Homo sapiens: one gene and its partners. The protein of the gene in region 1 interacts with the protein of each later gene in a pairwise test. Each region holds a gene or a part of one and is shown on either strand. Other genes may lie near its edges. The genes, in order: BMAL2, CLOCK, NPAS2 and RORC.

Evidence for each region.
Region 2: the proteins of BMAL2 (region 1) and CLOCK interact in binary tests that used the Homo sapiens proteins (3 or more experiments, as listed by UniProt).
Region 3: the proteins of BMAL2 (region 1) and NPAS2 interact in binary tests that used the Homo sapiens proteins (3 or more experiments, as listed by UniProt).
Region 4: the proteins of BMAL2 (region 1) and RORC interact in a two-hybrid assay, tested with the Homo sapiens proteins (one study listed by BioGRID and IntAct).

Annotation. Positions count from the first base shown.
Region 1 is NC_000012.12:27,419,816-27,425,796, forward strand, and holds the end of BMAL2 (basic helix-loop-helix ARNT-like protein 2), read left to right. Parts: intron 1-580; coding exon 581-717; 3' UTR 718-5,471; downstream 5,472-5,981. UniProt on the Homo sapiens protein: Transcriptional activator which forms a core component of the circadian clock.
Region 2 is NC_000004.12:55,452,895-55,459,924, reverse strand, and holds part of CLOCK (circadian locomoter output cycles protein kaput), read left to right. Parts: intron 1-663; coding exon 664-777; intron 778-914; coding exon 915-1,033; intron 1,034-3,624; coding exon 3,625-3,707; intron 3,708-3,921; coding exon 3,922-4,028; intron 4,029-6,100; coding exon 6,101-6,248; intron 6,249-6,527; exon of another isoform or gene 6,528-6,795; coding exon 6,796-6,871; exon of another isoform or gene 6,872-7,030. UniProt on the Homo sapiens protein: Transcriptional activator which forms a core component of the circadian clock.
Region 3 is NC_000002.12:100,823,139-100,830,168, forward strand, and holds part of NPAS2 (neuronal PAS domain-containing protein 2), read left to right. Parts: intron 1-7,030. UniProt on the Homo sapiens protein: Transcriptional activator which forms a core component of the circadian clock.
Region 4 is NC_000001.11:151,828,776-151,835,800, reverse strand, and holds the start of RORC (nuclear receptor ROR-gamma), read left to right. Parts: upstream 1-3,998; 5' UTR 3,999-4,036; coding exon 4,037-4,076; intron 4,077-4,668; exon of another isoform or gene 4,669-4,671; coding exon of another isoform or gene 4,672-4,873; intron 4,874-6,342; coding exon 6,343-6,372; intron 6,373-7,025. UniProt on the Homo sapiens protein: Nuclear receptor that binds DNA as a monomer to ROR response elements (RORE) containing a single core motif half-site 5'-AGGTCA-3' preceded by a short A-T-rich sequence.

The DNA of each region.
Region 1 (5,981 bases):
AGAACCTTTTATCTCTAAATTAATTATCATCTCCATGGTTCCTACTTACTTCCTTTTTCAATAAAAATCTGATTTATCTCCCTTTTATAAGAAAATTCCAAATCTTTAGAAGATGCTTCTGTCTCAGGCTTCTCATTTCAGTATTAAACAGATAGGGTTTTTTCATAAGCAGATTAAATTTTCTCCTTCCAGGGTTTGCGCGTGCACACACACACACACACACACACACACACAAACATACACTAAATTTCCTAGCTTCCTTCCAGCTCTCTGAGAGTCTGTACCCTTTAGCAGTGTAATTTCCTATTAGAAAACTCATAGACTAGCTTACTTCTCTGTAGCAGATGAATTAGGTGCAATTTATCTGACAGAAGATTGTTATAAAACTAGGTAACCCATTTAAAAATACATCAGCCATCTGCAGCTTAAGATATATACTTTGCCTTCAAAAATACATTTTATGGTTTTCTAGCCTTGCTTTGCCATTTTTTATCACAATCATTTTTTAACCTCAAAATGTGTGAAATGTATGACTTTACTGATCACCTTTACTTACACAGGCCTGTATTTTAATTCATAGGTGATGGTGCACAGTTGGATTTCGATGCCCTATGTGACAATGATGACACAGCCATGGCTGCATTTATGAATTACTTAGAAGCAGAGGGGGGCCTGGGAGACCCTGGGGACTTCAGTGACATCCAGTGGACCCTCTAGCCTTTGATTTTTAACTCCAAAAATGAGAAACATTTTAAAGCATTTCATTTACGAAAAACTGTCTCAACTATTCTTAAGTACTGTATTGATATTGTTTGTATCTTTTATTAATGTTCTACCACTTTTTATAGATTTGCATCTTCCTGTCACAGGGATGTGGGGAAATACGTTTTCCTCCCAAGAGAACCAAGTTTATTATAGACTCCTTTATTCAGTGAAATGGCTTATAATCCACTAGTTGCCATATTTTTGCTAAAATATTTCTAACCAAGAATACTACTTACATATTGTTTTGGCTTTGTTTTATTTTTGATGCAGTTTTTTTTAGTTGAGGTAATGTAATATATTGATGTTTTCCTTTGTGTCTAAGATTCATTTATAATAGTAGGTTTGTATAATTTGGAACATTTTCCATTCCTTGCGAATTTCCTTAATTGAGGATAGGGCTTACACACTTTAAGAAAACAGTGAGTACTTGAACATTTAAAGGGACAGTGCAATTTATAGTCATAATCACATTGAATACTGTATTTGATCTTTGGAGACTTAGGCAAGCACAGAGCTGGGATATTTATGCTCAGTTGAGCACTTTAAGATGAATTTTAAGTGAGATGATTTCTTGCTTAAAACTCAGAAAGTCAAAAGAGTTTCAGCTTTCCTTACAGAAAAGGAAGGATCTTGGGCCCTAGATCTTGGGGATTAACCTCTGCATATAAGATTTACTCTTAATAGGCCAGACGTGGTGGCTCACGCCTGTAATCCCAGTACTTTGGGAGGCTGAGACGGGCAGATCACTTGAGGTCAGGAGTTCAAGACCAGCCTGGCCAATATGGTGAAACCCCGTTTCTACTAAAAATACAAAAAAAATTACCCAGGCACTCACTCTTGAGGTAACTAACCAACTCCCACGATAATGACAGTCCATTCATGAGCGCAAAGGCCTCATGACCTAATGGCACACACCTGTAATCCCAACTGCTTGGGAGGCTGAGGCGAGAGGATTGCTTGAACCTGGGAGGCAGAGGTTGCAGTGAGCCGAGATCGCACCACTGCACTCCAGTCTGGGCAACAGAGTGAGACTTCATCTCAAAAAAAGTAAAAAAAAAGATTTAATATAATCACTGAAGATCTCTATTATAGATAGATTAGGTTTTTGACATTGGAAACATACTTAGGGATAGATTTGTCCTAAAGGAAAAAAGTAGGCCCGGGCAGATTAAATGTCTTGTGTAAAGTCACACATTAAATTCAGTCACACATTAAATTCATAGAGTTTTAAATGTTTAATGTATATAAACCAGTTTCTTTATACACATTTGGGAAAACATTGGTCTCACAGATTAAATGATTAACTAACTGACCCAGGAACTAGTTGTAGCTTTCTAAGTAATTAGGCAATTACAGTTATTGCCTGTAACCAAAGGTAATAAAACAAAATGACAAGTACATGTTTAAAATTATGAGGCAATGAGAAATAATTTAAAAACCAATTTTCTAGTTATAATTTAAAATTTGGAGAGCATTTTTAACAGTAATTAATCCAGAGGTGGCTCAAATTGAGTATAAGAATTAAGATTATTTAAAATACTGCATGTCTACCTTCTCGGGGATCATACTTTATAACACTTTCTGCTTCAGTAGCTCTTCATAGCTTGCCAAGTATGCTCCCATATTTTCTCTCTCGTGCCTCGCAAATGAAAGTCAGATAGGCTGGGAACTCATGGGGCAGCCCTCAGACTTCAATGTGGGCTTCAAATCCAGTTTCCTGTTCTATATGGTGCTACATCTTTCCAGAAAATTTCCCTCAGAGCCCCTCGCCAAAACAAAGCATTATTTTGACCCTGCATGCTATTTCTTTAGCTGTAGGTGATAGATTAGAACTTCTGTCAGACATGTTAATGACAAACATACCAACAGACAATAACCAAAAGCAAATGTTTCCTTCAAGTGTGAAATGTGCAGGGGCTTCGTGGGCAAGGATGTATTGGCACACTGTCCTCTTGAACTGATAGTGTCCCAGCAATGTTGGAGGGTTGGCACCATTCCTGGTCCGACACTTGAGGACCTGAGAGACATCAGGTTTAGAATGAGCCAAAGAAATCCTACAAGATGGGGAGAATTGGTGTGCAGCAGCCTAAGTGTTATAGTTAAGTCTAAAGAAGTATGAAAGATCCCCTGTGTTCTCTAAATTGAGCAGAGGGGCCTGCCTACCAATATCACTTTTTAGGGGACTGAACCATTGCAGGTTAGACTTGGCTTCCAAAGAGTCTGCCTAAGCCAGGGGTGGCAGGGTAGGCCATCATAGCTGGATGGCCTCAAAAGCAGATGGGGGCAGACTTGCCCTCGTGATGCCAGGATTTGAGAGGCAGAGTTTCTAGAGGGAGACCAGTGCTGCCTCTCACAGTGGCAGTTTTTTCTCTTTGCAAGAGGAGGGGCTGTTCAATTCCATAGACCAGTGGGCAGATAGCCAGTTGAATACTCTGTGCATGGTTTGATCCTTTATTAGTTCGCTCTAATATTTTTCTGTAGATCCTTTTGTCCTGGACTCAAAATCTAATCCATGCATTGTATGATACCGTAGCTCTCCTAAGGTTTGTGTTTCCTTCAAAATGTTTTAGTTTTCTTCAACTAAATTTGATTTTTGCTGTTAGAAGTGACATATTTTTATGGTATACACTATGTTCCTTTTTTCTACTGCGAGTCAATTTTTTGAATTTTCGTGAGAAAGAATATATCTACAAATTGCACGAAAGTATCATAAAAACAGTACTCTAGACTTTTCTTTTCTTTTCTTTTTTTTTTTTTTTTTTTTTTTGAGATGGAGTCTCGCTCTATCGCCCAGGCTGGAGTGCAGTGGCGCGATCTTGGCTCACTGCCATCTCTGCCTCCTGGGTTCACGCCATTCTGCCTCAGCCTCCAGAGCAGCTGGGACCACAGGCGCCCGCCACCACACCTGGCTAATTTTGCTTTGTATTTTCAGTAGAGACGGGGTTTCACCATGTTAGCCAGGATGGTCTCGATCTCCTGACCTCGTGATCCGCCCACTTCGGCCTCCCAAAGTGCTGGGATTACAGGCATGAGCCACTGCGCCCGGCCTACTCTACACTTTTTTTAACCCTAAGAATTACCACTACAGTAATGTAGTGGAGTGGGAAGAGTGCCTGGAATCAGAAGACCCTGTTGAGGCTGAATTTAGCTGTATGACCTCATGCAAGCCATTTAAACTCTGTGCCTCAGCGTCCTCATTTTTAAAAGGAGGTTTGATCTCTATGTTTACTTCCAGCTCTGATTCTGGGATTCTAATCCACAGGACTTGGGTGTTAGGGTGGAACCTAGAACTGTGCTGTCCAGTGCAGTAGCCACTAGCCACATGTGGCTACTGAGCACTTGCAATGTGGCTAGTACAAAGTGAGATGTGCTATCAATGTAAGATACATACCAGATTTTGAAGACTAGTATTACCAAAAGAATGTAAAATATCACATTAATAATTTTATATTAATTACATGTTCAAATGATATTTTGGATATACTGAATTAAAACATTAAAATTAGTTCTACTTGTATCTTTTTACTTTTTTAATGTGGCTAGAAGAAAATAAAATTATACATGTGGCTCAGATTATATTTCTATTGGACAGCGCTGCTCTAGAACATTATATTAAGTGGTTATTATTGAAGTAGACCAAAGTTTATACCATAAGGATATTTTTCCTTAAATACCATGTTTGAAGAACAATTATTTATTGATCCTTGAATCTGTAAGATCAAATAACAAGTCTCTATCCATGTTACCAAATTTAAACTTTTGAAAATAATAAACTTTAAAATATCAGATGTGTTATTACAGGATGATACTTGGAATCAAGTGAAATGAGTTATATGGTCATCACTAAATTTAGAAATCTATTGTGAAACAAAGACAAACAGGAAAGTACAGAATAGAGACTTTTAGTAAATAAATGGAATTTAAAAGAAAGTGTTTATTTACAGTGTCACGACAGAAAAGGATGTCTTTGTTGTCATAGTCTTTGAGGGATCTCCGTAAAATCTGGGGCACAGGTACAAGAAATAGCCAATATTTAGTTCCCAGACCATGTTTAGTAGTGTCCAGTTTCAGATCATGCTGCCAAGAGGTATCTCCCCCTCAGGTGGGTCATCACTGAGCCCTGGAATTGGAGACTCATACTTGCCCAGCACAATGTTACGGGCAGACAGGCCGACATCTATGATTAGCTAGAAGCCATAAAGAAAAGCTGCTAAGTGGCCACTAGGTGCCACTTTTCTGTTTTTGTAATGCTTTCATTAGCAGATCTTTTTTTTCCAAGCTCCATGGGGCCTATGAGAGGCATTTATGATTTTTGTGCCTACAATAAGTCAGCCTGTCTGGTGTGAGTTGTTTTATGAGAAATGCTTTCCAAGGGAGGTCTAGGAAGATCCTGACACATAAGAACTTTGGCTTAGAGAGCTTTCCAGGTGTAGTGCCAATAAAAACTGACCTGGAAAGAAAACCTGCCCAGCACGGAACATGCTTTCTGAACTCACTTGAGAGTGTATGGTGTATGTCACTTCTCATATATTCTTGAGTTTAGATTTGTCTTTTATACAATTTTTAGCTCTTTTCCAGTTCACTTGTGCTCGTCTGTATATTGGTATTTTTAAATTTTTGTGGTAAATAATGAAAAGAGTGAAATTATATTTTATAATTACTCATTTGTAGTTTTTTTTTTTAATTTAATAAACTTCCTCCAAAAAGTGCTCCCTTAACTACTTTCTAATGTGGAAACATAGATTAAGGAAACCATCCAGTGCCCTCAAACCACTGGGCAGAGGGGTACATTGAACTCTGTTACTATATATATTTCTGGGTATGTTCCCCAGGGTATACTAACTGCTGTAACAACTCCAAAATCTCAGTGGTTTAACCAGTAAAGGTTTCCTTGTGCTCACGTCAGACTCCAACGTCATCAGCCTTATCTGTCCCTCTGACTCTCTCCTCCTCCCTTTCTGCCTCTTCCTCATTCCATCCCTCAGCTTTGCTTTCCTATGAGCTGGTTTTATCTTCCGGTGGACCCTCTCCGCATAATGACACTCAGAAGTTCCAAGCGTATATTGTTCTTATACCTGACAATTTCAGTGGAAAGAGAGCCTCTCTATTTCCTAGTAATTCACATGCACATATGCATTGACTGGGCCTCTGGATCAACTTGGTTTACCTGGACTTTCTGTTGTGTGGTTGCAGTATCTACACTAATTCTAGAGAGT
Region 2 (7,030 bases), on another chromosome or scaffold:
CCCTCCACTTTGAGGCAGGAGGATTGCTTGAGCCTAGAAGCTTGCAACCAGCCTGGGCAACATAGTGAGACCCCATTTCTATAAAAAATTAAAAATTAGCCAGGCATGGTGGCTCACACCTGTAGTCTTGCGTACTTGGGAGGCTGAGGCAGGGGGCTCACTTGAGCCCAGGAGTTCAATGCCACAGTGAGCAGTGATCATGCCACTGCACTCCAGCCTGGGTGACAAATCAAGACCCTGTCTCAAAAAAAAGAAGAAAGTAAGGACCCAAAGGTGTAGATGCTAAAGGAATAAGGAACAGTGATGTGGCCCGGGTCCTAGAGAAAATAGGAAAGACTATAAATGGTAGAGATGGAAGGATTAGCTTTAGAATGTGAAGCAAAACTTTCCTTTGAAAGTGAGTAAAGAATGAAAAGGATGAGTAGCTAAAAATAGGGAAACATTAAGTTGTTTGCACCAGAAAATCTATTTTTTCTATTAAAGACAAAGTGAGATCCTCTCCTGAAGGTGCTCTACTTTTATGAACTAAATGTCATTGACGACTTCTGTTGGGGAAAATAATGGTTGTAAACTTACACAACTTTTATGATCTTACTTTATGTGGTATATCAATCATTGTTTTATATCAGAAATATGTGATTTTTAAAATCTCTTTTATTTCAGCAAAAAATCAGTTAGAATTCTGTTGTCACATGCTGCGAGGAACAATAGACCCAAAGGAGCCATCTACCTATGAATATGTAAAATTTATAGGAAATTTCAAATCTTTAAACAGTGGTGAGTTAAAATGCTTCTCTCACAATGTGTTTTAACTTGTTATTTTTCTGTGCTCTTAAAGACATAGATGTTTGAATATCAGTGACAATTAGGTTTTGCTGGCATAACTGATGATACATATTTCCCTATTGTTTTAGTATCCTCTTCAGCACACAATGGTTTTGAAGGAACTATACAACGCACACATAGGCCATCTTATGAAGATAGAGTTTGTTTTGTAGCTACTGTCAGGTTAGCTACACCTCAGTTCATCAAGGTATGTTTTTAATTTTATTTCCCAAAGGGGATTTCAGTTCATATGCTGAGAGCTGCCTGAAACTTCCTGCAGACATTGAGGTGGAATGGCTATGAGTCATTAAATATGCATGATAATATTTTTGAAACGATGAGTTATCAAGACACTCATTAAATTGTATAACTAATTTTTTAGTATATATCCTTTGCAGTTAACCAGTGATTATTATATATCAATATTGCCCTACTTTTGTGGAAGATTTTAGGATCCTTTTGTGTGTTGTTCATTATCTCTATTAAAAGGGAAAGTCCAAAAATCTAGGTTTTTGGAATCTTTATTTTTAGAAGGTAACTTTTAAATTTTTATTTGAAATGTACAAGTGGCTCTTTGCCACATATAACTTACCTTTTCAAATGTAAAATTAGGTATTTTATTTTTATTTCCTGGACCCAACAAACAGATGACAAGTAGGGAAGTGGGAAAGTGAAAGAGTTAACCACTAGAAACTGACTGGAAAGAGGCAGCCAGGCTAAGATTTAAAATTTCGGCGGGGCCAGGCGAGGTGACTCATGCCTGTAATCCCAGCACTTTGGGAGAGCAAGGCGAGAGGATTGCCTGAGCCCAGTAGTTTGAGACCAGCCTGGGCAACGTGACAAGACCCCATCTCTACAAAAAATACAAAAAATTAGCCAGGCATGGTGTTACACACCTGTGGTCTCAGTTACTCAGGAGGCTGAGGCAGGAGGATCATTTGAGCCCAGGAGGTCGAGGCTGCAGTGAACTGTGTTTGCATTTTATTTTGAGACAGAGTCTGACTCTGTCTCAAATAAATTTGGGGGGACATCATAGTATAGGACAAAGTACTGAATTAATAGAAGATCTTAAGCCAGTCTTGCTTGGTTTGTTTTGATCTTATGAAATAATAGTTGTTAACATTTGAGTGCTTACTACATGCTGTGTATTTTATATGCATTATCTCATTAATTCTTATGACAACCCTATAAGTTAGATGCCATTACGATCCCTCATTTTACATTATAAGGAAACAGGCTTAGGGAAGTTAAGTGACTTGCCCAAAGTCTCAGCTATTAGTGATGAAACTGGGACTTGATTCTATTAATTAATAATTGTTTTTTTCTCAAAGCCCAAGCTCTCAACTATTACAGAGTGCTGCAGGTCATTCAGGGACACAGAGGCAGGATGGAATACATTGTTTAGTATGACTAGAGTCTAGGGTTAGTGTGTGGAGGGGGAAGAGATAGTGGGAGGTAAGGCTAGAAAAGTAATCAGAAACCAGAAATAAAATTTGTTTCTTTCTTGTTTATTTCTCCATGCTGAAGAGAGTTTAGCACAAGGAACCACTGAAGGTTTTTTAGCAGGGAAGTCATATAATATTTGAGTATTGGTAAGGTAATTGTGGCCCTAGAAGAGAAGATGAGTTGAAGGACAGGGAGACTGGTGAACACTGTAGCAAATCAGTGATGGCAGGGGTCTAAACCAATGCACTCAAGATGGATGAGATAGAATTGATTTTTAAAATACTTAGATGAAATGGAAAAGATTTAGTAATGGCCACTTAGATGATGAAAGGTAAAAATGAAAGAGTATGTTTTTTTAACTATCAGATTTCTAGACACTGGCCACTACACATGTATAGAATAATACGGAAAATTGTGTGATTGGGTGTGAGGAGTAAAGCAGTTAGTTTATTTTAGGACATATTGAATTTGAGATGTATGAGGACATTCAGATATTTGGAAATATGGAACTGTAATTCAGGAGAGAGGTCTGAATTTTGAATAAGCGTTTATAGGCATGTGTGAATGGAAAATGTGTAGAGTGAGAAGTACCCACCCAAAAGCTTGCATCTAAAGGTTATTTATTACCACATTCTTTAGTACTGGAAAATTAAAATATATTAACTTGTTTAGAAGGGCCTGCATTTTGGCTTATGCCTAGAATCCCAGCACTTTGGGAGGCTGTGGTGGGCAGGTTGCTTGAGCCCAGGAGTTGAAGACCAGCCTAGACAACATAGACCCCCCACCTCTACAAATAAAAATACAAAAATTAGCCGGGCGTGGTGGTGCATCCCTATAGTCCCAGCTACTTGGGAAGCTGAGGCAGGAGGATCGCTTGAGCCTAGGATGTTGAGGCTGCAGTGAACTGAGATCACACCACTGTACTTCAGGCTGAGTGACAGAGTGAGACCCTGTGTCAAACAAAGAAATAGGTAAATATATACATACATAGAAACAACTAACTTGTTTAGGAAAAGTTTATCTAGTAATGACTATTTATTTATGTATTTATTTAACCTCCACCTCCTGGGTTCAAGTGATCCTGCTGCCTCAGCCTGCCGAATAGCTGGGATTACAGGTGCCCGCCACCGTGCCCTGCTATTTTTTGTATTTTTAGTAGAAATCGGGTTTCACCATGTTGGCCAGGCTGGTCTCAAACTCCTGACCTAAGTGATTTGCCCACCTCAGCCTCCCAAAGTGCTGGGATTACAGGTGTGAGCCACTGCACCTGGCCATGACTTATTTTTATATGTAGCAATATTTAATATTCTTAAGGACACAAAGTATTTATAAATTTTAATTATTTATTTGTAGGAAATGTGCACTGTTGAAGAACCCAATGAAGAGTTTACATCTAGACATAGTTTAGAATGGAAGTTTCTGTTTCTAGATCACAGGTAATTCCATTTTTAAATTCCATGAAAAGGTAATAGTCATGTTATATAATTCTTGAAATTAATGGATCAAGGGCAAACTTTTTTTTAAATTAGGACTTTGAAACCTGTTCCCATTTTTTGAAAAATAAAGCCCCCCCCCCAAAGTTTATTTCTAGTTGAAATATTTCTTATTATGGAAAAACTTATAATAATGATTGTTTTCTGTGTAATTTAGGGCACCACCCATAATAGGGTATTTGCCATTTGAAGTTCTGGGAACATCAGGCTATGATTACTATCATGTGGATGACCTAGAAAATTTGGCAAAATGTCATGAGCACTGTAAGTAGATTTTAACATTTCTGGTGATAATAACTGTTTTATAAGCAGAAGTCCTGTCCTGAAATGATAGGTAGTAAGACACAGATTTATAATCATTTTCATATTTTTGAAATATGCTAAAAGATTTTGCTTTATGTATATAACCAATGTAGTAGGAATCATAGATCAAGTTTAAACTTGTTCCTATTTTTATAATAAGTAGAATTTTATAATATTGCATCTAATACACCTTGTTCTGAAGCACGTGAGCTCTATATCTGGAGTAAGAGAAGTAGATTCCTTTGAAAATTGTAATACTTCAAACTTTTGGAGTATTGTTTCCTAAATTTTGATTTTGAGGCATGTGAATCTTTTCAGGAGCTAGGTACATGTCTGGAAAATCTGTCTTAGAAAGCTCATAGTAAGTGCTTGGTGTTATCTGCTTATTATTGTTGTTAGAGCAGGAGCATTATCATCCTTTGTGCCAGGCACTGTTCTAAACACTTTACATCTATTATCTTCATTATTCTCCATCACAGTTCTAAAAGGTAGATGCTATTATTATCTTCATGAGTAAGCTGAGAACACAGTAAGGCTAAGTAATTCACCCATAATTTCATAGCTCATTGGTGGCAGAGACAGGATTGGAGCCTAGGCCTACTCTTTTTATCACATGTATTTATTTTAGAAGTTTGTTTTAATGATGAGGTTTGCCTTAATGATATGTTTTATTTGCTTCTCTGATCCTCCTCCCAGATGCTTACCATCTTGAGTGTTCACTAAAGCTTAACTAGATATTTTAGACCTTTTCATGACGTTTTATGCTGCTGTTATAAACCTCACTGTATGAAAATGAAGCAGGTTGTATAATAGCATTAACTCTATGGAAAATTTTCAGAGTAAAGTCATTTCAGCACAAAAGATGTGGGCATTAAGCACCATGATGTTGTCTAAAGAGCTGATACCTCTATTAACTAGCTGGGTAACTTTGGACAGCAAGTTTGTTTGTAGACCTTGATTTCCTCCTTAGAGAGTGAGAGGCGGTGGCGGCGGGGTTGGGGGGTGGGGGGACAGATTGAGAGATTCTTGACTAGCATTTTCTAAGGTTTGTTCCACCGAATGTTGGTCCATAAAAAAAGACTTTATAGTCAAGGAAGATGGGGAAACACTTCATAATCCCTCAGAGAATCTGCACATGCATTAGCATACTCTAGGTTTTGAGAAAACTGAAGACACCTATTTAACAAAAAGTTTCCCAAATTAATTTAACTACAAACCCTTTTTTTTTTTTTTTTTTTTTTTTTGGGATGGAGTCCTGCTTTGTCACCCAGGCTGGAGTGCAGTGGCGTGTCTCAGCTCACTGCAGCCTCCACCTCCCGGGTTCAAGTGATTCTCTTGCCTCAGCCTCGTGAGTAGCTGGGATTACAGGCACGTACCACCATGCCTGGCTAATTTTTGTATTTTCAGTAGAGATGGGGTTTCACTATGTGAGCCAGGGTGGTCTCAAACTCCTGACCTCAAGTGATCCTCCCACCTCTGCTTCCTAAAGTACTGAGATTACAGGCGTGAGCCACCACACCTGGCCCAAAACCCATTTTTTTGTTTAATATCTGTTAAAACGCTTCAGAACTTAAAATCCACAGCACATGTTTTGGCAGTTACTGCACTCAGTTACTTCAGACTCAGTTACTTTGATTTTGGTTAGTTAAGGTTTAAAATTAAATGCTTCAAAGATTCTGTGCCTGCCAGAGTAGTTAGGAGAAAAAACTCAGGGGTGATTATTTATTGTTATTACCCTCTGTATATCTAGGCAGGAGGAAGTCAGCAGTGTGAATTCTTAAGTATTAATTGTGTATGGAAAGATTGTAAGATCAGCAGTGACTAGCTGTGAATTGGGCACTGTAGATCTGATAATTGCTTGGGACCTTAAACTAGCTCTAAAGAATAACATTTTCATATTGACATATATGTTATCAAAAGGCCAGAAAAATAATAGTATGTGTAAACTTAAATGTAAATGATAGCTTTTGGTTAAAAAACAATCTTTATATAATATGAATTAAAGAAAAAATATTTCTCTATTTTCCTTTTAGTAATGCAATATGGGAAAGGCAAATCATGTTATTATAGGTTCCTGACTAAGGGGCAACAGTGGATTTGGCTTCAGACTCATTATTATATCACTTACCATCAGTGGAATTCAAGGCCAGAGTTTATTGTTTGTACTCACACTGTAGTAAGGTAATAATTCTTTTAGAGAATTTCTGAATTACTGTAACATCCTATGATGATTTTGGCATTGTAACTTTTATGCGTAAGTTGTTAAAGAGCTACAAAGTGCTCTTTTCTCAATTGCTGATAGATCCTTTCAATATATTATTAAATTTACTTATAGGCATTATATATAAATATAGGAATGATATAGATATATAAGTCTTGATATAAATTTTGTGCTTTACAGCAGAAGTTGTTACTGTCATTTATGTAGTAATGTCAGTCATGTAAAAGGAAAACTGTAGGTAGATAAGCATACACTTCCTTTATTTATTTTTCTTAATTTAAGTATTGTGTGGTTATGGATCGTTTACAGCAGTGTATGAAACTTTAAGATACCTAGAAAAATGCAAGTTAAATTAAGACATTATAGGTATATTTTAGGTTTGTGTAGCACATAGCAAATAGTCTAGATGAACAGATGAGACACGTAACAACACTGAATAGTTACAGCTGTGCAGTATTTTAAACGAATGACCAGACACTAAAATTTGATTATTTTTTCCATTTGTAGTTATGCAGAAGTTAGGGCTGAAAGACGACGAGAACTTGGCATTGAAGAGTCTCTTCCTGAGACAGCTGCTGACAAAGTATGTTTCTTATAATTAAAAAAAATTATTTTTAATTTCTCCCCAATAAAAGATGAAACTCAATAATTAATAGGAAAACTATTTTTCAAAAATACTTTATTTCCTCACTTATAACGGGGATGTGATTATACTTTACTACTTATTTTTAATTTAATATTT
Region 3 (7,030 bases), on another chromosome or scaffold:
ATTTCTGAATGCTAATGGGGTACTTAACTATGAGTAATTCTATTTTAAATCTCAAGGTGATGATGATTAATAGTATCTCAGGGCACTAAATAAACATGTATTAAATATGAGCGTATGTTTAAAGGGGGAGTTTTTAATGCAGTCTTTAAGGCACAACTGCTTCTCACTTGAATTCTTTAACTGAGATTAAGGAGTCCTTGGCATTTTAAGCAAAGTCATTTCTTAGGTAAAGTTCCCCCAGAGACCACTTGAACTTTTGCAAGTCTTAAAACAATGGGTGGTTCCATTTGATGGTTCAGAATAGAAAGGAGAGTGTTGATCCTCTACACTGGTATGAAAAAAACTGTATAAGGAGATGGAGGATGCTGGATATCATAGTGCCCGAGAATCACCTGGGGCCCTTGTCAAACACAGATTCTAACTCAGGACACCTGGGAGAGGACCCGAGCTGCATTTCTCACAGCTACCAGATGCTGCACGCTGGCAAGGTTTTGGGATGCACTGAATCCAGTTCAGCATGTTTACTGAGCATATACCACATAGAGAGCCCAGATGATAAAAAAATGAGAAGATGGGTTGTACCTGCCCTTGAGGAGCTAACAAGGTGAGGTGGCAGGGAGAGAGAGAGGGATTGTAAACTGAAAATGAGGTTCTGGGATGCCATTCTCTGGGGTGGTGGCCAGAAAGGGGCCCAGGAAAGGAGAGTTGCTGGTAGGGCTTCCACATTGCTGACCTTGACCTGTAGTCATATTTGAATGGAGAGCCTTGTGACTTGGCAAGAAATAAAATGCAGATTTTGAAGTCAGACAGACCTGGGGTAGCCTCCCAGCTCAGCTATGGCAACTTTTAACCTGAGACTCAGAGTCCTTGTCAGAAAAACAGTGCAAATGATGCTTACCTTGCCAAGTTTGTAGAATTACCAGTAAAGGACGCGTGTTAGGCCTAACAAAAGTGATTGCTTTTATTACTGTTGATAGGAGAGAGGAGGCTGGAAAGCAAGGAGGACGAAGAGGTTACTAAAATATGTTCCATGTAGTTCACCAATTAGAGATTCAATTTGGTTTACCAGCAAACCCAAGGCCGGCCGTGGAGAACCGGGCCAGGGCTGGAGGGCAGGCAGCTGTGGAAGCTAATCAGAGGCAAAATGGAAAATTATTGGGAGCATGCTTATCTCCACCCTCTCCTGCAGTCCCTGGCTTCTGGTTTGCTTTGTTGATAGCCCTTCCTAGGATATTTTCATCTGAAGCTTTTCTTGGTACTTAAGCTGTAGGTTCTGTTGATCAAGACTGCTAGTGGCAATCAAGCGCTCTTTAAAAATGTAGTGGAGAGGACAAACACCTCTCCTCTTTGAGGGGCATTGGTCTATTCTGTGGTGGGTCACTTTCCAGGATCAAAGCCATCAATCTGTCTTTCCACCATAGTACGAGTTACTTGAAACTAGTGCCGAGCGTGTTGGAATTCACCTGGGGTGCCTTTTATGCTTTGCACTCTAAGATATTGCTTCCTCCTGCCATCTAGGAGAGATGGATATTGCAAGGCAATGGTGTCCTTCACCCTGATATTAGGAGGGGTCACCTGGGTGGCCCTGAAAACACTTCAACCAACATCACTCTGATTTTTTAAAATATATTTTGGGATTCCATTTATTATTTGCAAAGGCGATTTCTCTGCTACCATTTGCCTTCCACGCTCCCTGAAAGTAAATCTTGAAAACCAAGTTCTAAGAGAATGGCAATGGCAGTTTGATGTTTAGGGGGAAGGAAAAGCAGAGGAACCCCCTGGAGCCAAGGCAGGCCTGGGTGAGGGTGGAGACGAGAGAGGGAAAGGAAGGCATCGTCAGGCATGGGAGTACCAGGATGGAAATGGGAGCAGTGGTGGGGGCTGAAGCTGAGAGGTTGGACCCTAGGACTCAATTTGTGGACTTTGTTGCTTTGCTGAAGGCCGTGGCAGATAATGTTCCCAGACCACTGAAAATCATCCAGGCTTCCAGAAAACACAGGCCCATCTAAAGACAGACAGGTGACGAGGTGACAGAACCTAGTGGCGTGATTCTTCTAGCCTCTTCTGAGCCAAAAATGACATGCACAATTTTATGAATGATATTTGTGCCCCTTGGTGATAAAATATTAAGAGCTCGAGGTCATCTGAAAATTATTGGTTTTTTGTTTATAAAAGTACATAGTTTTTGGAAAAGATAGAAAAGAAGGAAAAAACCCCACAATTTCAAGATATATTTTCCGTTCAGTGTTTTTTCTATGCATTGAAATATTTTTATATTAGTTTATCTTAAAAAGCACATGGATATAATCTTGTAAAAATTTTCAAATAGCACAGAACCATTTCTAGTAGAAAGAAAAAAAATTCCCTTCATCCTTGTGGCCTACCCATAATCATCGCCCTATCTTTTATTTGCCTAGCAGAAACTGGATTTTGTACAGTAGACTGCCAACCCACACCTGCCTCTGGAGGTTTATCAGATTGGCCACTCAACCCTGGTGAGGGTGGGGCTGCTGCCCTTGCCAGTGACTGGCTCAGGGTGAGCATGCGGACCCTGTTCTAGCCAATAAAATGTGAGGGTGGGCCACTGGGAGGCTTCTGGGAAAGTTTCCCTGCTCTCAAAAGAGACAAGGAAGGAAACAGTCCTTTCCTTCCACTAGATACTGTGATATGTGGCCATAATGCCTGCAAACTGGGCAGCCATCAGCCACCAGAGGGGCTGGGCCAGGTCTCAGCTGACCTGCGGAAGAATGCAAAGGTGAAGAAGGGCAGGGGGCGGGGAGGTCTCCGTGGTGCCCTTGACTTTCTGAATTACACAAAGAAGAGTCTGTTTTTGAACATGTGTGAGATCATGAAACCATTACCAGATGAAGCAAACTGAGCTAGTTTTTCTGTTGTAGCCAAAAGCATCCCATAACTCTCCACCTTTCTCAGGAGGTAATGACTGATAACCATGGGGCATGTTCTGCTAGTCATTTTTGGCGCATTTACATATACACACACATATGTACACTTTTAAAAACTAAGGCCGGGTGCACTGACTCACGCCTGTAATCCCAGCACTTTGGGAGGCCGAGGCGGGCGGATCACGAGGTCAGGAGTTCGAGACAATCCTGGCCAACATGGTGAAACCCTGTCTCTACTAAAAATATAAAAATTAGCTGGGCATGGTGGCACATGTCTGTAATCCTGGCTACTCAGGAGGCTGAGGCAGGAGAATCACTTGAACCAGCGAGTCGGAGGTTGAAGTGAGCCAAGATCCTGCCACTGCACTCCAGCCTGGCAACAGAGCAAGACTTTGTCTCAAAAAAATAAAATTAAACTAAAAAATAAAAACAAAAACTGAACTCATTTTATGTATATTATTTAGCAACTTAATATGGCATGGATTTTTAATGACATACCTTTTTCTTTATTTTTAAAGGCTACAGAGTATTATTCAGAAGTACAAATAGGACGTTATTTAACCCATCCCTATTAATAAATAATCTATTGAGTTGACTGTTACAGTTTTTGTATTAACTTCCTTATCTGTATATCTTTATGTACATTTCAAGATTTTCTAGGTCAGGGATTATTAGGCCTGGGTAAAGGCACACCTGTTTGAAATATTGATAGATGCTGCCAAATTGGGGGCTAAAAAAAGCTATGCCTGTTAACCTCCCCATCTACAGTGTGTAAGGCCGCCTTGTCTCCATATCTTAACTAACACAAGATATTTTCCAGCTTTTAAATCTTTTTTGTGCATTTTCACATGTTTGAGGTAGTACCATTTATAGTTTTCTATTCTGATTGTTTTGACGTGAACATAAGCATTTTTCCATGACATAAACAATTTAAATTAAATTTTATTGGCTACATAATAGTTATACTTGTTTTGGGAGTGTATCGATGGTACATGAAGACGCAAAGGGAAATATTTGAAATAGAGGTTGTCTATGAAAATTAAGTGGCTATGATCGACCTTGCAGTAAACCTGAAAGATTTTCTGGAAATGGTGTTGGGAGACACACCCCTCCAGTGATATGTTTCCAAGAAAACCCTGAGGAGATGACCTTCCAGGCCTTTCTCAATCCAGTCAGATGGTAGGCTGCCCCAAGCATTTCTAAGAAGCTTTGTTGCTTTTAGAATCCATCAGATTTACAGTCAGACAGGTTCTAAATTCAGTTCTCTGAATGTACAGTAGTTACGTAAACACTTCGTACATTGCATGAGACAGCTGAAAAGTAAATTTGCTGTATTCTTTTAATTTTTTCGACTTTTATTTTAGATTCAGGGGATACATGTGCAGGTTTGTTACCTGGGTATATTGCATGATACTGAGGTGTGGGGTATGAATGATCCTATCACCCAGGTACTGATGTAGTACCCAATAGTTAGGTTTTCAGTCCTTATCCCCTGGCTCCCTGCTCCCTCCAGTAGTCTTCAGTACCTGTTGTTGCCATCTTTATGTCCACAAGTACCCAATGTTTAGCTACCACTTATAAGTGAGAACATGCAGTATTTGGTTTTCTATTTCTGCATTAATTCACTTAGGATAATGGCCTCCAGCTGCATCCACGTTGCTGTAAAGGACATGGCTTCATTCTTTTTATGGCTGCATAGTATTCCATAGTATATATGTAACACATTTTCTTTATCCAGTTCACTGTTGATGGGCATCTAGGTTGATTCCATGTCCAGTAGACATGGACATGGAATCACGATTGCTATTGTGAATAGTGCTGTGATGAACATGTGAATGCATATATCTTTTTGGTAAAATGATTTGTTTTCTTTTGGATAGATACTACTATCAGTAGTGGGATGGCTGGGTCAAATTAGTAGCTCTGTTTTAAGTTCTTTGAGAAAGCTCCAAACTGCATTCCACAGTGGCTGAACTAATTTACATTCCAGTCAACAGTGCATTAGTGTTCTCTTGTCTCCACAGTCTCTCCAGCATGTGTTTTTTGACTTTTTAGTAATAGCCATTCTGGCTGGTGTGAGATGGTACCTTATTGAGGTTTTGATTTGCATTTATCTGATGATTAGTGATATGGAGCATTTTTTTCATGTTTGTATGTCTTCTTTTGAGAAGTGTCTGTTCATGTATTTTGCCTATTTTTAAATATGGTTTTTGTTTTTTTTGCTTGTTCAGTTGTTTAAGTTCCTTATAGATTCTGGATATTAGACCTTTGTTGAATGAATAGTTTGTAAATATGTTCTCCCATTTATGTAGGTTGTCTGTTTACTCTGTTGATAGGTTCTTTTTCTGTGCAGAAGCTCTTTAGTTTAATTAGGTCCCACTTGTTAATTTTTGTTTTTGTTGCAATGGCTTTTGAGGACTTTCTTTCCCAAGGCCAGTGTCCAGACTGATGTTTCCTAGGCTTTTCTCTAGGATTCTTATGATTGAAGTCTTACATTTAAATCCTTAATTCATCTTCAGTTAATTTTTGTATATGGTGAAAGGTAGGGGTCCAGTTTCATTCTTCTGCATATGGCTAGCTAAATATCCTAGCCCCATTTACTGAAGAGAGAGTCCTTTCCCCATTGCTTATTTTTGTCAACTTTGTTGATGCTCAGATGGCTGCAGGTGTGTGGCTTTATTTCTGAGTCCTCTCTTCTATTCCATTGGTATATGTGCCTGTTTTTGTACCAGTACCATGCTGTTTTGGTTACTGTAGCCTTATAGTATAGTTAGAAGTTGGGTAATATGATGTCTCCAGCTTCGTTCTTTCTGCTTAGGATTCCTTTGGCTATTCAAGCTCTTTTTTGGTTCCCTATGAATTTTAGAAGAGTTTTTTCTAGTTCTGTGAAAAATGACATTGGTTGTTTGATAGGAATAGCACTGAATCTGTAGATTGCTTTGGGCAGTATGAGCATTTTAATAATATTGATTCTTCCAATCCATGAGCATGGAATGTTTCTCCATTTGTTTCTGTCATCTATGTTTTCTTTTAGAAGTGTTTTATAGTTCTCATTGTAGAGATCTTTCACCTCTTTGGTTAGCTGTATTCCTATGTATTTTATATTTTAATGGCTGCTGCAAATGGAACTGTGTGTGTTTTGTTGTTTTTTTTTTTTTTTTGAGACAGAGTCTCATTCTGTCGCCCAGGCTGGATTGCAGTGGCGCAATCTCAGCTCACTACAACCTCAGCCTCCTGAGTAGTTGGGACTACAGGCACGCACCACCATGCCTGGCTAATTTTTGTATTTTTAGTAGAGATGAGGTTTTGCCATGTTGGCCAGGCTGGTCTCGAACTCCTGACCTCAAGTGATCCGCCCGCCTGATCCCAGCACTTTGGAACTGTGTTCTTGATTTGGCTCTCAGTTTGGACGTTATTGGTGTGAAATAATGTAGAAATGCTACTAATTTTTGCACATTGATTTTGTATCCTGAAACTTTATCGAAGTCATTTGTCAGTTCTAGGGGCCTTTTGGTGGAGTTTTTCGGGGTTTTCTAGCCATAGAATCATATCAGCAGCAAAGAGAGAGAGTCTGACTTCTTCGTTTCCTATTTGGATGCCTTTACTTTCTTTCTGTTGCCTGATTACTCTGACTAGCACTTCCAGTACTATGTTGAATAGAAGTGGTGAGAGTGGGCATCCTCATCTTGTTCCAGTTATCCAGGGGAATGCTCTTAAAACATTTTCAATTCTGCTAGAGAAGAGAGGAAGGCAAATGAAATGGATAAAACTCATAAGAAATGTTAATCACCCTTCAGGCAAGGGCACATTTGAAAAGCACCACTCTTGGGCATGGACCTCTGATCATCCTTCTACTTCCTCACTCCTAAGTGATAGTGCATAGCCCAGGAACACCCACCACCTGCTGTCCTCCAATAGGAAAGGAAAAGGCAAGATGACAAAAGAAAAAACCTTCTCAGAGTCAACAGACCACACAAGAAAAAGATACCTTGAAAGCAAAAACAACCTATCAGTAGACTTCCTGGGGACATCATGAGGCAGCCAGCATAGCTCTTTGGTCTTTGTTGCATGCATTGAGGCATCCCAAATATCCTAACGCGAATAGAATTGTTAGTCATCAGACTACG
Region 4 (7,025 bases), on another chromosome or scaffold:
TGTTATCTCAGTTGATCATCACAACCACTCAGTAGAGTAGATATTAGTATTCCTCTTTTTTGGGGTGGGGGGACGGAGTCTCACTCTGTTGCCCAGGCTGGAGTGCGGTGGTGCGATCTCGTCTCACTGCAATCTCCACCTCCCAGGTTCAAGTGATTCTCCTGCCTCAGCCTCCCGAGTAGCTGCCACTACAGGCGCGTGCCACCACACCCGCTGGTTTTTTGTATTTTTAGTAGAGACGGGGTTTCACCGTGTTAGCCAGGATGGTCTCGATCTCCTGATTTGGTCTCATGATCTCGGTCTCGGTCTCATGATCCACCCACCTCGGCCTCCCAAAGTGCTGGGATTACAGGCGTAAGCCACCGCGTCACAACCACTCAGGAGAGTAGGTATTATTATTCCCACTTTACAAAGAAAGAAATGGATCAGATAGATAGGTTAAGTAAGCTTGCCTGGGGAACAGCCCTGGCTGGAGGGAAAGGTTCTGACCTGACTCCACCCAGACACCCCCACTGCCACCCCAACTGCTTAGGGGAAGCTGTGAGGAAATCCAAGGCCACTCCTCCCAGGAGCAGTTCACTCAGCATTCACAGCCCTGAGGCTCTGTGATGGGGGCCCTAGCATTGCTGGAGGAACATCCTGGGTAGCTAAAGTACAGAAACATGGGAGTGAGGAGGTCCTAAGAAACCCTCCAGTGTGCAGATTGCTCTGGCCCCAAAGCACTTCTATAAACACTAGTCAGAGGCCAGGTGTGGTGGCTCATGACTGTAATCCTAACACTTTGATAAGTGGATAAATGTGGGAGGCTGAGGCGGGCAGATTACCTGAGCTCAGGAGTTTGAGACCAGCCTGGGCAACATGGTGAAACCCCATCTCTACAAAAAATGCAAAAATTAGTTGCATGTGGTGGCATGCACTTGTAGTCCCAACTACTTGGGGGGCTGAAGCAGGAGGACCTCTTGAACCCAGGAGGTCAAGCCTGCAGTAAGCTGAGATCACGCCACTGCACTCCAGCCTGGGTGACAAAGTGAGACCTTGTCTCAAAAACAAAACAAAACAAAAAAATCCACTAGTTAGGACAGGTATTATTGCCCCATTTTTACTGATGTGGTAGCTGAGGGCTGAGATTTCCCTCAGGGCCTACAGCTAGTAAATGGCAGACCACATTCTTATAAGTGATTCTGCCCCAGCATTTAAACCCTTCTTGCCACCTCCAAGCCTGTGTGACTATAAATGTTAATTGGTAGAGGAGAGGTACAAGCAGGGTCACTGTGGAAAGTTCAAGGCCAGGAGCTAGGGTCAAACTCCCACTGTTCCTCCACCCACAGTGGCCTTTGTGACAAGAAGGGGGAGGGGTGGGGACTGTGAGATCTGGAGGCTACCGAAGGTTACAGAGCCTGGGCTGTCCTTTTTCAACGGTTGAGGCACAACCCATCCCTGAGTCACTCCAGTGGGTTGAGGCGTCCCCAGGCATGGAACCCCCTAGAACCCAAAGAAAAGTGGTCCCTAATCACTGGATCAGGCATCCCAAGGAGAGGGCCCTCCAAGGATGGGGCTGGGGAAGTGTGTGCCACCGCAGACTACCCAGGCTCCACATATTTTCCACCTTGACCCCCAGGCCCTCCCTGAAAGGGCAGATTTGTGCTGAGCTTTAAGTGGTTTCTGTGGTTTAGGGTTGGGGAAGGAAGGAAAGAGATGCTGGGGACTGCTCCCCAGTTCCAAGCCACCACCACCACCTCCCATCCCTTCCAGAGTGTTTGCCCCCAGCATGGAGATTTCCCCAATAAGGGGACTGGGCACGTGGGGATGAAATGATTCTCTGATCCCTATCAGCCCCTTCCTTATATAAGATTGTATTTGAAGAGGAAATAACCACCGCCCTGCTTTGAAAGGACGATTCTTCCAGATAAGGGGCTGTGATTGCAGCAAGAGGGAGAAAGTTTAGACAAGAGGGGGAACTTCCCATAAGGATAACCAAGGGATCTTCTTGCCCTGGGGAGAAAAAAAACTCAAACTATCCATGCTTAGGGCAGGGGAGAGGTAGAGAATGCCTAGGAAGCATGTGACACTCCTAGGCCTAGAGGTCAGGATACTGTCTTCTAAATCTCCAGTCACTTCCTCCCCACCCTACATAGTAGCACAAAGTGGCACAACTGGGGAGTCAGCTGTGCCTGCAGTGTCTGGGGATGCTCTGTGTCCATCCGCAAGCATTCTACGTGACCTCCACTCTGTGCCTGCAATTGGTGGGTTGTAGAAGAGGTAGTCACGAAGGGCCCCTGGGAGACCCAGAGTCAAGAGGAAGAGAGGCCTAAAAAGGAGAAAAGATAGAGAGGGGACAGCTGGAGAAGAGCCACAGACAGGCAGGAGCCAGCAAAGAGAGACAGAGAGATGGGGGATAACTGAGGAGTTCTGGGGAGGAGGGGAGCAGAACGGCATCTCCCCTGCACTCCCACGCCCGGCATGTTGCTGGCTCCTCCTGTCAGCTGGAGGGTGCTGGGGGGGCGGGGGGGAAGGGAGCTGCAAAGCACTTTACCTCTCACTCCAAACCTGCCCAAGGTGCAGAGCCCCCAAACAGACCAACATCCTGTTCTGTGCAGAGATGCATACATGGATGCGTGGGCCCACATTTACCAAAAGAACACGGGGGATAATCAGAGCCTCAGAGGCATAGGCACATACCCTTAGACTCAGTGCAGAAGGTCCCCAAAACTTCCCCTCCTCTTTCTCACTACTCATCCACTGTCAATGACCCTAGGAGTTGAAAAGTCCTTCTCCACTTCTACCTTTATCTCTCAATCTGCAGCCATGGGGAGACTCTGGGAGCTACCTAAGAACAGAGGTGCTGATGGTAGCAGAGTGTGAAGCTCCAGGGTTGGGCAGGAGTGGAGGATGGCGAGACGAGACGGCAGAAGAGGGAAGGGACAGCTGCTTGCCCTCTCCATGCCAGGTGCCACGTGCACCAGGTGGGGGGGAGTGGGCGAGTCACGAGGCTGTGGCATGGCTGACTCCTGCTCTGCTGTTTACCAGCTGGGAACGAGAGCAGGAGGAGGTGCCAGGGAGCCTCTTGCTGCAGCCTGGCCCCTGGCCAGTTGCTTGTTGGGTAACCAGGAGAGTCAGGCCCAGCTAATCAAACTCTGGGCCCAGGCCATGCAGGAGAAAAGCAGCACCAGGATCCCCAGAAGCCTCGTCCTCTTGGCCCCCTTCAGAGCCTTCACTGCAGGCCTCAGTGTGGGCCACTAGGTCTGGGAGCCTCTCCTTCTCCCAATGAGTCCAGTGCAGCATCTCTCCTCTCCTCTTCCCCACCATGGCTTCTCTGCCTCCAGGCACTCCTCCAGGCCTGCCCCTTGCCCCAACAGATGAGGAGCACGTAGAAGCATCAGGGGGTCAGGGAGTCCTGGCAAGAGCAGCAAGGGTTAGGGGCAGGGGCCGAGCAGGCAGAGGCCTCAGGGAACTGAACAGTCACTGGGAGGAGTCTGACTGCATCCTAGAGAAGAGACACAGTCCCCCAAACCTGCCCTCTCCATCTCCCCTATGCCTGTCACCTGTCTTAGGTAGAAATCACAGGATTCTAAAGTCACAAAGACTTGGGTCCAAATCATAGCTCACCCATTTATTGTTCTTGTGTGAGTCCTTGGGCAAAATCATTAATATCTCTGAGAATCCCTCCACTCACTGATCAATCTGGAATAATAATGTTTCCCTGTGGTGGGTGCTGTGAATATTTACACAAAGTAAAAGCATGGATTTACATAAAGTGTCCTGCAAAGGGCCCAGCACACAGTAAGTGATTAATAAATGCTAGTTCCCTTCCTTTCTCCTGTCCTGTTTCTCCTCAAGGCTCCATGCACTGGTCCACTGGTCTCTCCTCATGTCCCCTCCTGGTGCCAGGACACTCTGCCAGCCACTCCTTTTCCCTGCCTGCTGGAGGGCCAGGTGCTCCCGCCTTCCACCCTCCGCCCTCCTCCCTCCCCTGGGCCCTGCTCCCTGCCCTCCTGGGCAGCCAGGGCAGCCAGGACGGCACCAAGGGAGCTGCCCCATGGACAGGGCCCCACAGAGACAGCACCGAGCCTCACGGGGTAAGAGGCCCATGGCCCTGCCTGCAGGTGGAAGAGACTGCTGGAGGTTCAGAGGAGGGCAGAAATGGCAAGAGACTGGGCAAGAAGTGAGGAGGGGAGGGAGGGACAAGAGTGCAGAGGAGAAAGCCCTGGGTTGGCAGGGAGTGAAACTGGAGGAGAAACAGGAGGAGGGGCTGGGGAGATGACAGAGGAGAAGAAATCGCAAAAGGAGAGAAACAGGAAAGAAAGGGAGAAGCGGGAGAAGGAAGAAACAGGTTGGAGGGTAGATGGGGAGGGAAGAGCCAAGTCAGGGGAGCCAGATCTAGACCCAGCGAGGGGTCAGAATGTGGACAGGCCCTCCCAGGTGTGGGCTTACCCCCCAGGAGGCACAGGGACACTGCTTCCTTGATCTGGCCAGGACCCCAGACAGCAGTGGCCGGGAGGCTGGCTGCTCCACCTTCTGTTCATTCACCAGTGGAGAAACCTGTCCTTTAAGGAGTGACAGACTTGGGGAGTGTGGCAGGGGGAACCACACCCTGTCAGCTGCCCATGACCACGTAGCCTGGTCCTTTCCTCGCCACTCACCCAGGGATGTGGGATTTCATCTCTGCAGAGAATGTGGGGCACTGGGCCATCAGCAGGGAAGGACAGAATGTCAGGCCGTCCTTGGCCCCACCCATGGTCCAAGTCAGGAACCCCCTCAGAGCAGGATCGCAGGGCCACAGGCTTGGTCAGCTGTGAGCATGGAGGAGGAAAGTTTGAGGGCCAGAGCCACCAAGCTCCAGGGCCACCTGGTGGAGGAAGAACTGGCTGCCTGGGTGAGCAAGGGGAGCACCCCCACCACAGGACTGCTCTGAGGTGCAAGGCTAGAGGCCAGGAGCCGGTGCCACGTCAGGGAGGAAGCTGGGTGGGGCCAGGCAGGAGCAAGGGGAGGTGGGCGGGGCTGGGTGGGGCCTTGCCACCTCGGGGCAGTCTTTTCTCCTCCCTCACCCCAGCAGAGCCCAGGCCATCAGGCCACTCGCCTCCACACAGCCTAGTGACCACGGCCTGCCAGTGGGGAGCATCTCCCGGGCAGAAGGGCACTGTGTGTGTGTGTGTGTGTGTGTGTGTGTGTGTGTGTGTGTATGTCAGGTGTCAAGACTGAACAGCAGAAGGAAAAAAATAACAGAATAGAGTCAGAGGTTAGGGAAGCTATAGGGGGTATAGGGCATGGTTGAAGGGCTTTCTGAGACAAAAGACTGGCCATGTGTTCTGTGATGAGCTGCTATGTGGATGTAGGAAATGGGCCAAGGTCTGGCAGGGGAATCCTCTTTCCAGGGGCTCCCTGGCTAGGTGTTTCATAGATGTTAACTGCATGAATGGGTGACACCCCCCCACCCACCAACCATGCTCCAGCTAAGGCCCTCCCCTCAACGGCTGCTCCCCCTGGAGGTCCGAGTATCCATGTGACCCCCATCGACCCACTCATGCTCCCTACTGCCCAATCTCCACCCAGACCCGGCCACGCAGCAGCAGCAGAGAAGGGAGGCCTTCCTCTTCAGGCTGGTAGGCCAGGGAAGCCTGGCCCGTGGAAGCCAGAGAGGGGTCTGTATTTGCAACTCTCCCCTCCTCTTCCTCCAAACATCCTCTCCCCCTACTCCCAACCCCCACATCTCTGAAGCCCTGGTGTTTTCAGGCATAGATAAGCAACCAAGAGATTTCAGTCCCACAGAGATTTAACTCTGGCTGTAGGATATTTCTTGTGCACCTCCAATGAAATTACAAAGTAAATAAGACCAACACAGTCCCTGCCTTCACAGGGCTTTACAATTTGGCAGGAAAGACCCATTTCATAGACAATGACACAATTACAGCAGTTAGGTGACAGTTGGTGACATGGTGAGTGCCAGGAAATAAAATGCAAGGAGCTAAATGTGTCAGCACAAGGGCAGGGGAAGGGGGTGTGTGTGGCTTCTCCAAGGAAGAAACATAATCAGAGACCTGAGGGAGAAAGAGAAGTTGGCTAGATTAAGGGGTACAGGAGGGACAGGCATTCTAGGCAAAGGAGCAGCTTGGGGGAGTCCCAGAGGCAGTGAGGAGCCTGACACTTCTGGGTACCTGGAAGAGGGCCAGTGTGGCCCAAGGGCAGAGGAGGAGAGAGGGGCACTGCAGGGGGTGGCCTGCCTGCCCTTCAGACGCCAGGCTCTGAGGGAAGGAGTGCGGCAGTGGGATCCTAGGAGTGGGGAAAGTGTCTCAGCCCCTCATGATCTTCAACCTTTGACGTCAACCCCCTCTCTTGTCTTTACAGAGCTGCTGGCTGCAAAGAAGACCCACACCTGTGAGTAGGGGGTCCGGGGCAAGAAAATGGCTGGGGCATAATGAGATGGAGAATAATTCAGCAAGTGATCTGTGGGGGGACTGAGGTTGGACAGAGGTGGAGGAGTCAGGAAGAGATGGCAGGCAACAGGAAAGCAAGGGGAGGTGCGAGGAAACCACAGATCAGGGCAGTGGGAGGAGATGAGGAAGAAGCCTGAAGCATGAAAGGAAACACTGTAAAGAAACCAGGAGAGAACAAAGGAAAAGGGAACCGCCTTGTGAAAAAAGGCGAGGAGAAATGCTGGACAGAGGCAGGGAGATGGGAGGGGGTGGGGCCGACTGCCAGGCCGGGGAAGGAAGGAGATAGAGGTAGGGGGGTGTGCGGAGGCGGGGTGGCCTCAGGAACTCAGGAACTCAGCGCTGCTGCCAAGGGAGACAGGGAGCCTGCACCAGGCTTTTTTTTTTTTTTTTTGAGACAGAGTCTCACACTGTCGCCTGGGCGGGAGTACGATGGCACAATCTCGGCTCACTGCAACCTCCACCTCCCAGGTTCAAGCGATTCTCCTGCCTCAGCCTCTCGAGTAGCTGGGACTACAGGCACCCACCACCACGCCTGGCTAATTTTTGTATTTTTAGTAGAGACGGGGTTTCACCATGTTGGTCAGGCTGGTCTCA